Homo sapiens: one gene and its partners. The protein of the gene in region 3 purifies or fractionates together with the protein of the main gene of each other region. This does not show direct contact. Each region holds a gene or a part of one and is shown on either strand. Other genes may lie near its edges.

Region 1 (4,356 bases), about 13 Mb from region 3:
CTCAGCTATAACAACCAGATTTGTCTCTAGACATTGTCAAATGTCCCTTGGAGGTCGGGGAAAAATCGTCCCCAGTGTGAAACACTGACCTACAGCATCCTTTCCTGTATTCACTTATTAAAGGCTCTGCTGCTGGCCCTATTCTTGCTCAGCCAGACCTTCCCATACATATGAATACACAGCTCTTCCTTTGTGGGTCACCATGAAACCTACCTTGGGAAACATTCCCATGCAGTACTCTGGAGTCTAAGGCCCAGCATCTAAAAAGGACATCTCTCAGCAGCTCATGGAAAATGGGACAGTCGCTCTATTAAGCCAGAAGACCTAGGCCCAAGTCCTAGCTCTGTACTGGAACTCACTTTGTGACTGTTGCTCTCAGAACCCAGTTTCCTCCCCTGTAAGTAGCATATAATGACAGACGGGCTTGCCATGTCTACCACGGCACAGGGTGGTTTTGATGACCTGAAAAAACACTGTGTATACTACAAAGTGATATTCACATTATTTAAAGTGATCTTGGGCCAGCCGTGCTGGCTCATACCTATAATCCCAGCACTTTGGGAGGCTGAGGCGGGTTTATCACTTGAGGTCAGGAGTTCAAGACCAGCCTGGCCAACATGGGGAAACCTTGTCTCTATCAAAAAATACAAAAACTAGCCAGGCATGGTGGTGCACCTGTAGTCCCAGCTACTTGGGAGGCTGAGGTGAGAGAATTGTTTGAACCTGGGAGGCAGAGGTTGCAGTGAGCCGAAAACACACCACCGCACTCCACCCTGGGTGACAGAGTAAGACCCTATCTCAAAAAATAATAATAATAAAGTAAAAAAAATTAAGTGATCTTACTATTGCTGTTGTTATTTACCCTTCAGAATTAAGCTCCTACTAGGAATAAATATTCACAAGAAACAGGAAATAAAACACCTTCCAAAAAAACAGGAAGTTTCAAATTCTGACTGTTGGTCCTAAATGACTCACGTTGACATTTCCCAGAACCAAATAACAACAGATGAGCTTTGTATTCTGCCTGCCTCCTTTACAGGATGGTAATGCACATGGCCAATTCCAGAACCAGTCTTCTTCCTTACACTTCAAGCAAATGCAGCTTCCTACCCTTATCATGTTTGTCTGTTTCTCTGCTTTAGTGGATTGCCCAAAAATCACCATTATGCAGCAAGTACTCAATAATGTTCACCATTACTATTATGAATATTAACTCTGATACCATGCAATGGTCCACCAGGCACCCATGAAACAGGAAGTGCTAGAGCTCCACACGCTGCCATGGGAACAAAGCCCCAACTGAAAACAACCCACATGTCCATCAATAGGAAAATGGTTAAATAAATTGTGGATTATTCAGAACAGGAACTGCTGCCATCTAGAAATTAAAAAGAATGAACTACTGATATGCACAACAATATGAATGAGTTTTGGTGAATTTTTGTTGAAAGAAAACAGCACTTTTTACCCATCACACAGGAAAAAATGTCAATATTCACTGTTGGCAAGAATGTGGGAAAGTGGTCACCTTCACTCGCAGTTGGTGAGATTATAAAATGACACAATTTGGGCCGAGTGCAGTGGCTCACACCTGTAATTCCAGCACTTTGGGAGGCCGAGGTGGGCAGACTACTGGAGCACAGGAGTTTGAGGGCAGCCTGGGCAACACGGTAAGACCCTATCTCTACAAAAAATTTTAAAATTGGCCAGGCATGGGCTGGGAGTGGTGGCTCACACCTTTAATCCCAGCACTTTGGGAGGCTGAGGCAGGTGGATCACTTGAGGCCAGGAGTTCAAGATCAGCCTAGGCAACATGGTGAAACCCCATCTCTACTAAAAATACAAAAATTAGCCAGGCATGGTGGCGGCTGCCTGTAGTCCCAGCTACTCAGGAGGCTGAGGCAGGATAATTGCTTGAACCCAGGAGGTGGAGGTTGCAGTGAGCTGAGATTGCGCCACTGCACTCCAGCCTGGGTGACAGAGCGAGACTCCCTCTTAAAAAAAAAAAAAAAAAATGGCCAGGGATAACATGCACAGCTATCCAGGAGGCCGAGATGGGAGGATTGCTTGAGCCCAGGAGATCAAGACCAGCCTGGGCCACATGGTGAGACCCTGTCTCTACAAAAAATACAAAAAAATTAGCCAGGCCTGGTGGCGCACACAGCTACCTGGGAGGCTGAGTGGGAGGATCGCTTGAGCCTGGGAGTTCAAGGATGCAGTGAGCCGTGATCATGCCACTGCACTCCAGCCTGGGCCACAGAAGACCTTGCCTCAATTAAAAAAAAAAAAAAGACACAATTTTTCAATTTCTTTTTTCTTAGAGATAGGATCTCACTAAGTTACCCAGGCTGGCTGTGAATTCCTAGGCTCATGTAGTCCTCCTGCCTCAGCCTCTCAAGTAGCTTGTCCTACAGGCTCACACCACCACACCTGGCTAAAATGACATATTTTTGAAGTATAAGTTGGTAGCATCTATCGGACAGGAACAAGTACCCTTTAACACACAATTCCATTTCTAGAAATATCCTGCAGTCAGAACTAGACGCACATGCAAGGCTAACTGCAGAAACAACACAATGTCCACCAGCATGAGTCGGATCAATGAGGTGTGTCCCACAAAGCACACATGGGGCTACCCTGCAGAGCAGACAGAACAGGTAAGCCCGGGCTGCAGCCCTGTCTCCACTCCTCACTAGCTGTGTGATTTGGCACAAGTCATCTCCCAATCTGTGGCTCACTTTTTCTAACAGCAAAGCACCTGCCTTACAAGAGAGATGGAGAGATTAAATTAGATCATTTATGTAAGCACTCCGAACGGTGCCTGGCAAATAGCAATTACTCAATAATGTTCACCATTACTATTATGATTATTAACTTTGATACCATGCAATGGTCCACCAGACACCCATGAAACAGGAAGTGCTAGAGCTCCACACGCTGCCATGGGAACAAAGCCCCAACTGAAAACAACCCACATGTCCATCAGTAGGAAAATGGTTAAATAAACTGTGGATTATTCAGAATGCCATGTAGAAATTAAAAAGAATGAACTACCGATATGTACAACAATATGAATGAATTTCAAAGATACAATGATGAATGAAAGAAGCCAGGCTCAAGAGCATATAAGACTATATAGGATTTATATTGAAGTTTAAGGACAAGCAAAAGGGATCTCTGGCGATAGAGATGAGAACGGTGATTACCTTGGGAAAGGGAAAGTGGGAAGAAATGGAAAGAGAGTCAACGGTCTTACAGGACCCCGGAATGTTTTCATCTTGATGATATGGGTGTTAGTTACCTGTGGGTATGCATAGGTAAAAATCACCCAGCTTACTCTTGGGATTTATGCATTTTGTTGGATGTAGCCGTGTGACCTTTGGCAAAGTGTTTAATTTCCGTGAGCTTCAGTCAGTTTCTCCATCAACAAGGATGGGTCTAATGATACCTGCCTTGCAAGGTTGCTATAAACGAAGAAGGTAAGGGTAAATACTTTGCAGATGTCTGTTTGTATGGGGCAGATACAACTGAGGCCTGTCTCCTGCCCCCAGACATGAGGTAGTCCAGGCTACCCACCCAGACTGAAAGGCAAATCCAAAACAATAGATGGCTCTGGAAACATTGATCAAAACCTGGGGCCTGCTATCTCAAAGGCAGGAAAAAAAACAAAAACAAAAACAAAAAACCTGGGACATCCAAAACAGACCTCAACACATGCTTTTCAGAGGAGGGGCTGCCAAGATTCAACCTCCTGAAAACCTCCCAGAATTTTGCCATCCCTATGAACATTCAGAAAGACAATGCTAAAATTAAATTCTGAATCTCAGCCCACCCAGCTGTACTCATAGTGAGTCCCAAATGACTACGTGTCATGCCCACCCACCAATCACTCTCTTGCTACTTACCGACATCACCAAATCCTCCAGAACCAATGTCCACTGGTCTGGGTGTTTCCGGTCTGAGAACCTCTGGTTTGCGAATCTCTGGTCTGAGCACCACTGGGGTAAGGTTTTCTAGGGTTGGCTTCGACAACTTTGCTGCTTGCCTGTTAGTTCGCAGAAACGAAGCCAGCATGTCCTGGCCTGTGTCCTCTAAGCAGGAGATGAACAAAGGAAGAGCCTGACTCCCTCGAGTCTCCAGATCTATGATCAGCTGCCTGGCCTGATCCCGCCGAGATCCAGAGCCTGCCCGCTGTTTGGAAAGAAAGGCAGGATACTAATTATCCACGTACTTTTATATGGCTCTCACCTTGTCTCCCCATTTCCCAGCTACTGTAAGTCTAAACAATCAGGCACGTGGGCAGCAATGGAGCTGCAGGTGCACTGTGTGCCATTTACCAGCCTTTGCTGATCTGTT
Region 2 (4,356 bases), on a different chromosome or scaffold from region 3:
GTGCAGAGTGCAAGAGCAGAGGCTGCACAGCCCCATGTCCCCATGGGGGAGGGGGCTGCTGGCCAGGGAGTGAGGCCAAGGCCTGGAGCCCAGCACAGTGCGGCCAGAGGACAGAAAGGGCATCGGCACAGATGCTGAAGTTGCCAAGGAGGGGACAGAGGCTGCTGGAGAGAAACAGGAGGGACTAGAGGCCTCCTTGAGAGCAGGAGTGCCCTGGAAGTTGGTCAAGGACAGAAAAGCCCATGGAAGGGGCCTGAGGAGGCACACAGCTGCTCTTCAAAAGGGCAAAAGGCACTGTGCCTATCAAAACCTGACACAGCTTACAACCATTGTGACAAAGGGTCAAAATCATAAAGAGCTCACACAAATTCCAAGAGAGCTTTTCCTTTAGACTTCATTACAGAAGCAGTCAAAATACACGAAATAACTCAATCATGCACTCACAAAATACAGTTTGCAAAAATGCCTGAACTTATTAGTCATCAAAGCACTGGAGAATATGAGAACAAGATAATCATCTTTCATTTATCAATTTAGGAAATACCTAGACGATGAAATAGTCAATGCTGGTTTGTGGGTGAGGTAAAATAAATACTCATATTCTGGAACAACTTGCCTGAAGAAATATTTAACTATTTTAAGAGGTTTAAAATGTCCACACCATTTGATCCTGGAATTCCCCTCCAGGAAACTATTTCTGGTTGTACAACTTGTATTAAGAATGTGTTTTTATAAAAACACTAAAATTAAATACATGTTAGACATGGTTGAAAGATAACTTTCTCATATAACAAGCAGACCACAAGAAGGATACTCATATCATAATAGGTAGAGCAAATCTTAATAGTTCATGATATTTACAAAAGGACTTGTAAAATATTTTCCTACAGCGAAAAAAGAACAAGATGGTTTGATTGTAGACAATTTTGGGTGTATCTTTATTTAATAAATAATTATTGACTATGACATGGGCACAATTACTATTCTAGGTATTAAGGATATAGCAATGAATAAACCAAGTACTTATATTCTAGTAGTGGGAGACAGATACTAACAAATAAATCAGTAAGTACAGATATGTCAGGTGATACTAGGATGAAGAAAGTAGAATAAGGGGGCAGAGCGACGGGAGCAATGATGAATCCGTTGGATGGCAGACTGTCCGAACACACTGACAACAGCTGCGGGTGGGCCTCTTGCTGACACTTCAGGGCCATCATGGGGTCAATATGCACCTGGTGATTACTGAAAAATTAATTCTCCCTTACTGTTTTTATGGGAGAATAAGTCCCAAGTTTTAGATGCCCAGACATACAAACATATTTCTAGCACACACTCTGTTTCAAGTTGCTAGGCTACTTAGAAGCAGTGAAAAAAATGCTACACTATGAAGTTGTTAAAGCTTCAAAAGGCAAACGAGGTTAAGATACGTGTGTGTCACTTCAGATGCACAGGAGAATTTCTTACCCCAAGTTTTCGCCTTTCTGAAGGGGCTCTAAGCAGATCTCAATTCTCCGTCCTAGTTTATATTCCCTGATAATAAGTGAAACAAGATAATATTGAGTGACATAACATTTAATTTTCTTGAATTTTTTTTCCCCCAATTTTAAGCTTTTTTCTTAAGCAAAGAATTGTTTTCTGAGTACTTATAAGAACACCCAAACTTTTGGAAAAGGGGAAAAAATGAGAATCCTTGCTGCGGTGATTATTTAGATACTTGAGTCATTTCTTACTAAACATGTAGGTCTGGCTCTGGGAAGATGGCCAAACTGCCAAAGAAATTTCCCTCTGTTCAGCCGGGGTTAAGATTCTCATGCCAGTCACTTTGGGGTGGTAATCAGAACCGATTAAAAGCAGCCTTGGCCAGGCACAGTGGCTCACGCCAGTAACCCAGCACTTTGGGAGGCCAAGGTGGAAGGATTGCTTGAGGCTAGGAGTTCGCGACCAGACTGGGCAACATAGGGAGACCTCGTCAAAACAAAAAATTAGCCTGGTGTCGTGGCACATGCCTGAGGTCCCAGCTACACAGGAGGCTGAGGTGGGAGGATCACTTGAGCCCAGGAGGTTGAGGCTGTAGTTGAGCCATGATCACGCCACTGCACTCCAGCCTGGGCGACAGAGCCAGACCCTGTCTATTAAGAAAAGAAAGAAAAGGAAAGAAAGGAAAGAAAGAAAAGAAAGAAACGAGAAAGAAAGAAACAAAAAGCCTCAAGGCTGCTTTTTGCAAAGGAAATGACCCAAACCTGCTCTTTAAGTTCAAAGTTTCAGGAGGAGGATCAGCTGAATCCAACATTTCTGAGTGAGAAACAGCCACTCCTACTTTCCATCTCACTCCAAATGCTTTTAAGTTATATAATGTCACAGTCACTGGAGCACAGAAAAAATATACAACACTACATTTATACTTAACATGGAAAACTGAAGGCCTGCTGGAGTTTATGATGAAAAGTGTCACCCAAGTCACAAGCGTGGCATGACCAGGAATGGGCTTTGTTGTCACTCAGCTCAGAAGACTGATTCCTCCTCCATCCCTCACACCAGCCAGTGCGTCAGCAGCAGAGAGGGACAGTGTTGCGTCCAGCAAGGAACCTACCTGAGTGGCTGCCGGTCAGTTCGTAAAAGCCTGCCTGGGCGCTTCCTCTCCACCGTCCAGGCTCTGAGGTGGGCTGGGGACGGGACACCGAACTCCAGGAAAGGAGGCAAGGTCATGGCCTAGAAAAAGAAACAGACATTTCTCCAACGGTTTTAAAAAGCACTCTTCAAAACATACTGTTTTAGAAAAAAAAAATGAAGCACTACACAGTGGCATCTCAAGGAAAGAGTATCTCAAGTAATGATAACATCATTTTAAAAGTCACAGGAATCTCTCTCTCTCTTAAATAACACTAACCCTGAGCGGTCTTCATATTCCTCTGCACTGAAATCACCTTGAGAAAGAAGTGAGTTCCCTCTCTCTAAATCTGAGTCAAAAGCTTCTTTTTAATCATCATGTTTAAAAAATGAAACTTTGGAATTAACTTCCATGGGAGTAGAATTCACCAGGGCAGAGCCCGCTCTAACAGTACAACAAGGGACACAACAGCAGCCTTCTTCCGTGCCCGCGCAATCCTCCACCAGTGTCTGCTCTGCCGATGAATCAGCTTTTGATTCTGAAGTATTTCAAAATCTTTGGCTGCAATCAGTAGGCCCAAACTGCTTGTTCTAATTCTGAAGGGATCACTTTAAGCCCCTACTGATATACTTAGGTTGGAGCCTCTAAAATTACCAATATTCATCCATTTTTTGACCTAAAAACAGCAATTTTATATCTTTCAACTTAATATGAGAAAAAAAAAGTATTTTCCCATTTGTTCTCATGAGAATAAGGCTGTCTGCTTTTTCTTTTCTCCTTTTTTTTTTTTTTTTTTTTTGAGACGGAGTCTCACTCTGTCACCCAGCCTGAAGTGCAGTGGCGCAATCTCAGCTCATTGCAACCTCCCTGTCCTGGGTTCAAGTGATTCTCCTGCCTCAGCCTCCGAGTAGCTGGGATTACAGGTGCCTGCCACCGTGCCAGGTGAATTTTTTTTTTTTTTGTACTTTTAGCAGAGACAGGGTTTTACCATGTTGGCCAGGTTGGTCCCAAACTCCTGACCTCAAGTGATCCGCCTGCCTCAGACTCCTAAAGTGCTGGGATTATAGGCATGAGCCACCACACCCAGCCAACATATGCTTTTTCTTGAGGAAGGGTATTTCATATACTGAGGGCGCACAAAAGCCAAACATCAACAACCACTAGTCATATATAGGCCCCACATTTTCTCCTCTAAGAGAAGAAAGGAATGCTCATTTCAGTCCAACAGTAGGCGGATGCTGCTTCAACACTGCATTGTGCTTAATCCAGCCCTTCCATTTGGATAAAACCCTCCTTCTCTGTGAACGTTAATGCATAAGAAACAACACAATACCTAGAATATCTAGTTTAGCATCCTAACATAAAAGCTGGAGTTCTAACCTCCTGGAAAACTGGTAACACAGCTTTTCATAACAACATTTAACATATGGGTCACAATGGTACACAAACAATGTAAATAAAGGGATAAAGTGAATGCTTTACAAATGTTCCAAGAAACCATGTTTCCCTAAAAAAATAAAAATGAACAAAAGCCGCAAGTCACTGAGGATAGATTGAAACAAAAGCACAGCATGCCTGTCAGAGGAGGGACCAGTGAGGCCACGAGGAGCCGTCTGCACCATGGGCGTGTATTGCCTGCGGGTACTTACCACTGAACATGGCATATGACAAATGCCATATCAGAACAGACTGTAATTGAGGGAAAAGGAGATAGAAGAATATATTAATATCTCACTGGAAGAAGC
Region 3 (5,806 bases):
AGTGGTGGCGGGAGAGTAGTCCCAGCTACTCGGGAGGCTGAGGAGGAGAATGGCGTGAACCCGGGAGGCGGAGCTTGCAGTGAGCCAAGATCGCGCCATTGCACTCCAGCCTGGGCGACAGAGTGAGACTCCGTCTCAAAAATAAATAAATAAATAAATAAATAAATAAATAAATAAAAATAAAAGTTAAAAAAAAAAGTAAAAATGAGTACGAGATTTTCTGAAATTTTCTAACCCCAAAATATTTATTTAATTTTTTTTTTGAGACGGAGTTTCTCTCTTGTTGCCCAGGCTGGAGTGCAATGGCACGGTCTCGGCTCACTGCAACTTCCGCCTCCCAAGTTCAAGCAATTCTCCTGCCTCCCAAGGAGCTGGGATTACAAGCATCTGCCACCACGCCCAGCTAATTTTTGTATTTTTTAGTAGAGACAGGGTTTCACCATGTTGGCCAGGTGGGTCTCAAACTCCTGACCTCAGGTGATCCGCCCGCCTCCACCTCCCAAAGTGCTGGGATTACAGGCGTGAGCTACCGCGCCCAGCCCAAAATATTTATTTATTCCACACTCTATTATAACTTTTGAAGACTGTGTAGTCGTTTTATTTTTTATATATTTATTTATTTATTTTTTAGTGAGACATAGTCTCACTCTGTCACCCAGGCCGGAGAGCAGTGGTGCGCTCTCGGCTCACTGCAACCTCGACTTCCGGAGCTCAAGCGATCCTCCCACTTAAGCCTCCAGAGTAGCTGGGACCACAGGCAACTAGCTCCACCACGCCCATCTAATTTTTGTCATTTTTTGTAGAGACGGGGTTTCACCATGTTGCCCAAGCTGGTCTGGAACTCGAGCTAAAGAGAGGCCGAGGAGGCCGCTCACTTTGGGAGGCCGCCTGTCTCGGCCTCCCACAGTGCTGGCATTACAGGCATAAATCACAGCGCCCGCCAGAAAACTAACAAAATTAGGCGGGCGCAGTGCCACGCACCTGTAGTCCCAGCTACTCAGGAGGCTGAGCTGAGAGGATCGAGTTTGCAGTGAGCTGAGATCCCGCAATGCACTCTCACCTGGGCAACAGAGGGAAACTCTGTTCCCCCAAAAAAATAAAATAAAAAAGAAATTTCCACTCTAAACTACAGTTTTGTTTAAAACGGGGGGAAAAATCCAAGTTAAAACTTTATTATTACTTGAGGCCAAAACTCCTTGATATCCCCTTTATTTCTTCTCATGCATTCAGTGGGTGATCCATAGTGCTACAAGATGTAATGAGGTCAACAAGTAAATTATGCAGAAACACTGAGGGAAGTATCCAGAGGAGGTGAAATTCTAAGTCACAGACTGGAGACTATTATGTAGATGTTTGAGGGAGCGATGGGATAAGAGTTATTTGGAGTCATCCCGCTACAGTCCGGTGGACTTTGGCTTAGGGCAAGACCAAAATACTGCCCCCACAATAAACCCAATGAAGCTGAGTAGAAGCTACCTATACAATGTATTTGCTGAAGTAAATAGGAACCCAAAAAAAATCATTTAAGTAAGATATTAAATATACATCCTTGATATAAGGCTCTCAAATTAGGAGACGGTGCAACCATTGAATAAGTTTCCCCCGCCGGGCGCAGTGGCTCACGCCTGTAATACCAGCACTTTAGGAGGCCAACGCGGGCGAATCACAAGGTCAGGAGATCGAAACCATCCTGGCTAACATGGTGAAACCCCGTCTCTACTAAAAACACAAAAAAATTAGCCTGGTTGGGCCAGGCGCAGTGATTCACGCCTGTAATCCCAGTACTCTGGGAGGCTGAGGATGTGGGATCACCTGAGGTTGGGAGTTCGAGACCAGCCTGGCCAACATGGTGAAACCCCGTCTCTATTAAAAATACAAAAATTAGCTGGGTGTGGTGGCGGGCGCCTGTAGCCCCAGCTACTCGGGAGGGTGAGGCAGGAGAATCGCTTGAACCCAAGAGGCGGAGGTTGCAGTGAGCTGAGATCGCGCCATTGCACTCCAGTCTGGGCAACAGGAGTGAAACTCCGTCTCAAACAACAACAACAACAACAACAAAATTGGCTGGTGTGGTGGCACGCGCCTGTAGTCCCAGCTACTCGGGAGGCTGAGGCAGGAGAATCGTTTGAACCCAGGAGGCGGAAGTTGCAGTGAGCCACCACTCCAGCCTGGGCGATAGAGTGAGACTCCGTCTCAAAAAACAAATAAATAAATAAATAAATAAAAAGGGTCCCCAAATGCACTTTGGTAACTATTAGAAGAGGCAAGGAGGAAGAAGATAATCCCTCAAGACTAGAATTATGTCTGACAGTCTCTTTTCCTAAAACCCGTCTTGATTGGCCTAAACAGACACCAATCAAGGCCCCATCTGTGTCTACTAGGAAGTGGTTTTGAGATTTCTCTCATCTTGAGAGAATCCAGGGCTGCGCCTGCTCTGCTGTCTAGGTCAAGACTTCACCCTCTTGTCTTGTGGATCATCCTCCAAAGACCCTCGGGTTGAGATTTTGCCTTCATCTCTCCTGCCCCTCAATTAGATAACACCTGGCCAATTCCTGTCATTTCAGAAAGCGGGAACACCTTAAGCATCTTTCCTCAACGATCTCTGCTTCTCTCAAAAAGATAGGTTTCTCCATCCCCTGACCGAGCGGGTTACTTTGTTCTCCACCTAGACATCAAGAGGCACCTAGACACCTTCCATCCCCTCAGGTTTGGACGCTGCTCTTTCGTACTTCAGGAGGCTCTAGGAGTCTTCCTACCACGCGCTCATCTGTGGGGAGACCTGGGCCTGCTCACTTCCCCTTAGAGCTCCTCTTCCTTCCCTGCCTTTGGAAAAAACCTGCCCTTTTTTCCCTTGTTCTGAGTGGCCGAGGCCTCTACCGCGCCCCTCGGGATAAGCTGGACTCTGCTCTCCTCAGAAGAACCCACTCTGTACTCTTGCTCTCCCGCCAAGGCTCCGAGAGGGTCTCCTCCCAGGCGGGCATCCGGGCTTCCAGCACCTATCGTCCCCCTCCCACTGGGCAGGACCCAGGCCTCCAACCAGCTCCTCATCCAAGGGCCCGGTGCTCCCCGGACCCCGCCTTTGGGGATACCCCAGGCTCCCCGGACCCCTCGATGGGGTCCTGGGCGCCTGGCCCTCTCAGTCCGGAGTCACTCCGGCCCCTCCTGGCCCCTGAGCCGAGTACTTCCGGGCCCCTCGGTCCGGGGGCGCCGGGGCCCCCCCAGTGGTGGACTCGCCGGTTCCCGCCGCCCTGGTCTGGGGCCCGAGCCCCGGCGGCGCGGCCGGCTGCGCTGGGGGCGGCCCGGCGGCTCGGGCGGACCCAGCGGCAGCGTCCCCCCACCCCCCCGCGGCGCCGCGACGTCCGCTCGCTCCCCGGCGGCGGCGGCGGCACGCACAGGGCGTGGGGAGGCGCCCGCGGAGGCAGCAGCCCCCCGCCCCCTGCGCGCCCGCCCGCCCTCGCCGGCCGCCGCGCGGCCCCCGCGCCCGCCCCCCCGCCCCCACCCCACCCCGCGCCCGCGCGCCCACCCCTCCCCCTCCTCACCGTCTCCGTCGGGCGGGCGGGCGGCGAGCGGCCAGGGCGGGCAGGCGACGGAGCATGCGCAGAGGCCGCCACGGCAGCTACCGCCACCGCCGCCGCCAGGCCGGGCTTCAACACTTCCGGCCGCCGCCGCCGGAGAGCTGGCGCCTTAAAGGGGACGCGTCCCTATTGCCGGTCCCACCGAGGATTAACCTTAGCCAAGGGATTTGGGCCTTACCTAAGCAGAATTCTTTCGCCCTTGAAAATCAGTGTTGGAAAGGTCGCTAGAGACCCCAGTAACTCTCCTTCCCGCACTCATAGATGAGGAAAATAGGCCCTAAATGAAAGAATCACCTCAACCACAATTGAGGGCCAAGCTAGCTTTCTCGACTCCTCTGGAGGACTCTACTCCATTTACCTCCCCAAATCCTGTTTTATGAAGTTTACATCTTATCGGACCCTTCAAGTTACAATCCAGCTATCAGTTTGCAATCAGAAGATCTGCATAGATCAGTAACTGGTCACGAGTCCTTGAGCAAGCCCTAAGCATTGTCTGACCCGTGCCTGTTTGCCAAGTTTTTCCTGCTTGTGAGTTTCTGGGTTGAAGTCTTGACTCCCCTGCTGGAAGTGTAAACGACTCTGGAGGAATTTCTTGACAGCTCTAAACCTGTTTCCGATAAGACATAATGTGAGTGCTAAAGAAGGTGATACCTGCATGAAAAGTGCTTCAGAGAGTTCCTGGGGTCAGTAATAGTAATTAACAAGTATTAAGACCTTTATTTTTTATTTATTTATTTATTTTTTTAGACAGAGTCTTGCTCTTTGGCCAGGCTGGAGTGCAGTGGCGCGATCTCGGCTCACTGCAGCTTCAGCCTCCTGGGTTCAAGTGATTCTCCGGCCTCAGCCTCCCGAAGAGCTGGCACTAGAGGCGCGCGACACCACGCCCGGCAATTTTTTTTTTTTTTTGTATTTTAGTAAAGACAGGATTTCACCATGTTGGCCAGGATGGTCTCAATATCTGACCTCATGATCCACCCGCCTGGGCCTCCCAAAGAGCTGGGATTACAGGCGTGAGCCACCGCGCCCGGCCGTATTAAGACCTTTCTATGGCCAGGTGTGGTGGCTTACGCCTGTAATCCCACACTTTGGGAAGCCGAGGCGGACAGATCACTTGAGACCAGGAGTTCGAGACCAGCCTGGGCAACATGGTGAAACCCCGTCTCTACTAAAAATACAGAAATTAGCCGGGCGTCGTGGCACGCGCCTCTAGTCCCAGCTACTCAGAAGGCTGAGCCAGGAGAATCACTTGAACCCGGGAGGCGGAGGTTGCAGTGAGCCGAGATCAGGCCATTGCACTCCAGCCTGGGCAACAGAGTGAGACTCTATCTCAAAAAACAAACAAACAAAAAGACCTTTCTATGGCCTATGGCTTGGTGAAGATGCTTCTGTCTTGTATAATCCTCACAGCAACCCTACTAAGTAAGTTTCTCTTTTTTTTTTTTTTTGAGACGGAGTCTTGCTCTGTCGCCCAGGCCGGAGTGCAGTGGCGCAATCTCGGCTCACTGCAAGCTCCGCCTCCTGGGTTCACACCATTCTCCTGCCTCAGTCTCCTCAGTAGCTAGGACTACAGGCGTCCGCCACTACGCCTGGCTAATTTTTTTGTATTTTTTAGTAGAGACAGGGTTTCACCGTCTTAGCTAGGATGGTCTCGATCTCCTGACCTTGTGATCCGTCCGCCTCAGCCTCCCAAAGTGTTGAATTACAGGCGTGAGCCACCGCGCCCGGCCCTTCTTTTCTTTTCTTTCTTTTTTTCTTTTTTTTGGTGGGGGGGACCGGTCTGGGTTGATCTCCCAGGCTGAGTGCAGTGGCGGGATCTCGGCTCACTGCAGCCCCAGCCTCCAGTGCTCAAGCAGTCCTCCTGCCTCAGCCCCCGGAGTAGCTGGGACCACAAGCAGGAACCACCATGCCTGGCTAATTTTTACATTTTTAGTAGAAATGGGGTTTTACCATGTTGCCCACTCTGGTCTCTAACTCCTGGGCTCAAGCAATCCTCCTGCCTTGGCCTCCCAAAGTGCTGGGATTACAGGTGTGAGCCACCATAATTGTTTGTTTATTGATTGATTGATTTGGAGACGGAGTCTCGGTCTGTGCAGTGGTGCGATCTTGGCTGCCTCCCAGGTTAAAGCGATTCTCCTGCCTCAGCCTCCCGAGTAGCTGGGACTACAAGCACGAGCCACCACGCCTGGTTAATTTTTTGTATTTTTAGTAGAGACGGGGTTTCACCGTGTTGGCCA

The links.
Region 1: the proteins of GMEB1 (region 3) and CASP9 purify together in Homo sapiens (affinity purification with western blotting; one study listed by BioGRID). This does not show direct contact.
Region 2: the proteins of GMEB1 (region 3) and USP40 purify together in Homo sapiens (affinity purification with western blotting; one study listed by BioGRID). This does not show direct contact.

Annotation. Positions count from the first base shown.
Region 1 is NC_000001.11:15,514,205-15,518,560, forward strand, and holds part of CASP9 (caspase-9 isoform alpha precursor), read right to left. Parts: intron 4,192-4,356; coding exon 3,906-4,191; intron 1-3,905. UniProt on the Homo sapiens protein: Involved in the activation cascade of caspases responsible for apoptosis execution. Binding of caspase-9 to Apaf-1 leads to activation of the protease which then cleaves and activates effector caspases caspase-3 (CASP3) or caspase-7 (CASP7).
Region 2 is NC_000002.12:233,486,772-233,491,127, forward strand, and holds part of USP40 (ubiquitin carboxyl-terminal hydrolase 40), read right to left. Parts: intron 4,301-4,356; coding exon of another isoform or gene 4,261-4,300; intron 3,128-4,260; exon of another isoform or gene 2,891-3,127; intron 2,713-2,890; coding exon 2,594-2,712; intron 1,534-2,593; coding exon 1,468-1,533; intron 1,246-1,467; coding exon of another isoform or gene 993-1,245; exon of another isoform or gene 910-992; intron 1-909. UniProt on the Homo sapiens protein: May be catalytically inactive.
Region 3 is NC_000001.11:28,666,570-28,672,375, reverse strand, and holds the start of GMEB1 (glucocorticoid modulatory element-binding protein 1), read right to left. Parts: upstream 3,593-5,806; 5' UTR 3,537-3,592; intron 3,159-3,536; exon of another isoform or gene 1,181-3,158; intron 1-1,180. UniProt on the Homo sapiens protein: Trans-acting factor that binds to glucocorticoid modulatory elements (GME) present in the TAT (tyrosine aminotransferase) promoter and increases sensitivity to low concentrations of glucocorticoids. Also binds to the transferrin receptor promoter.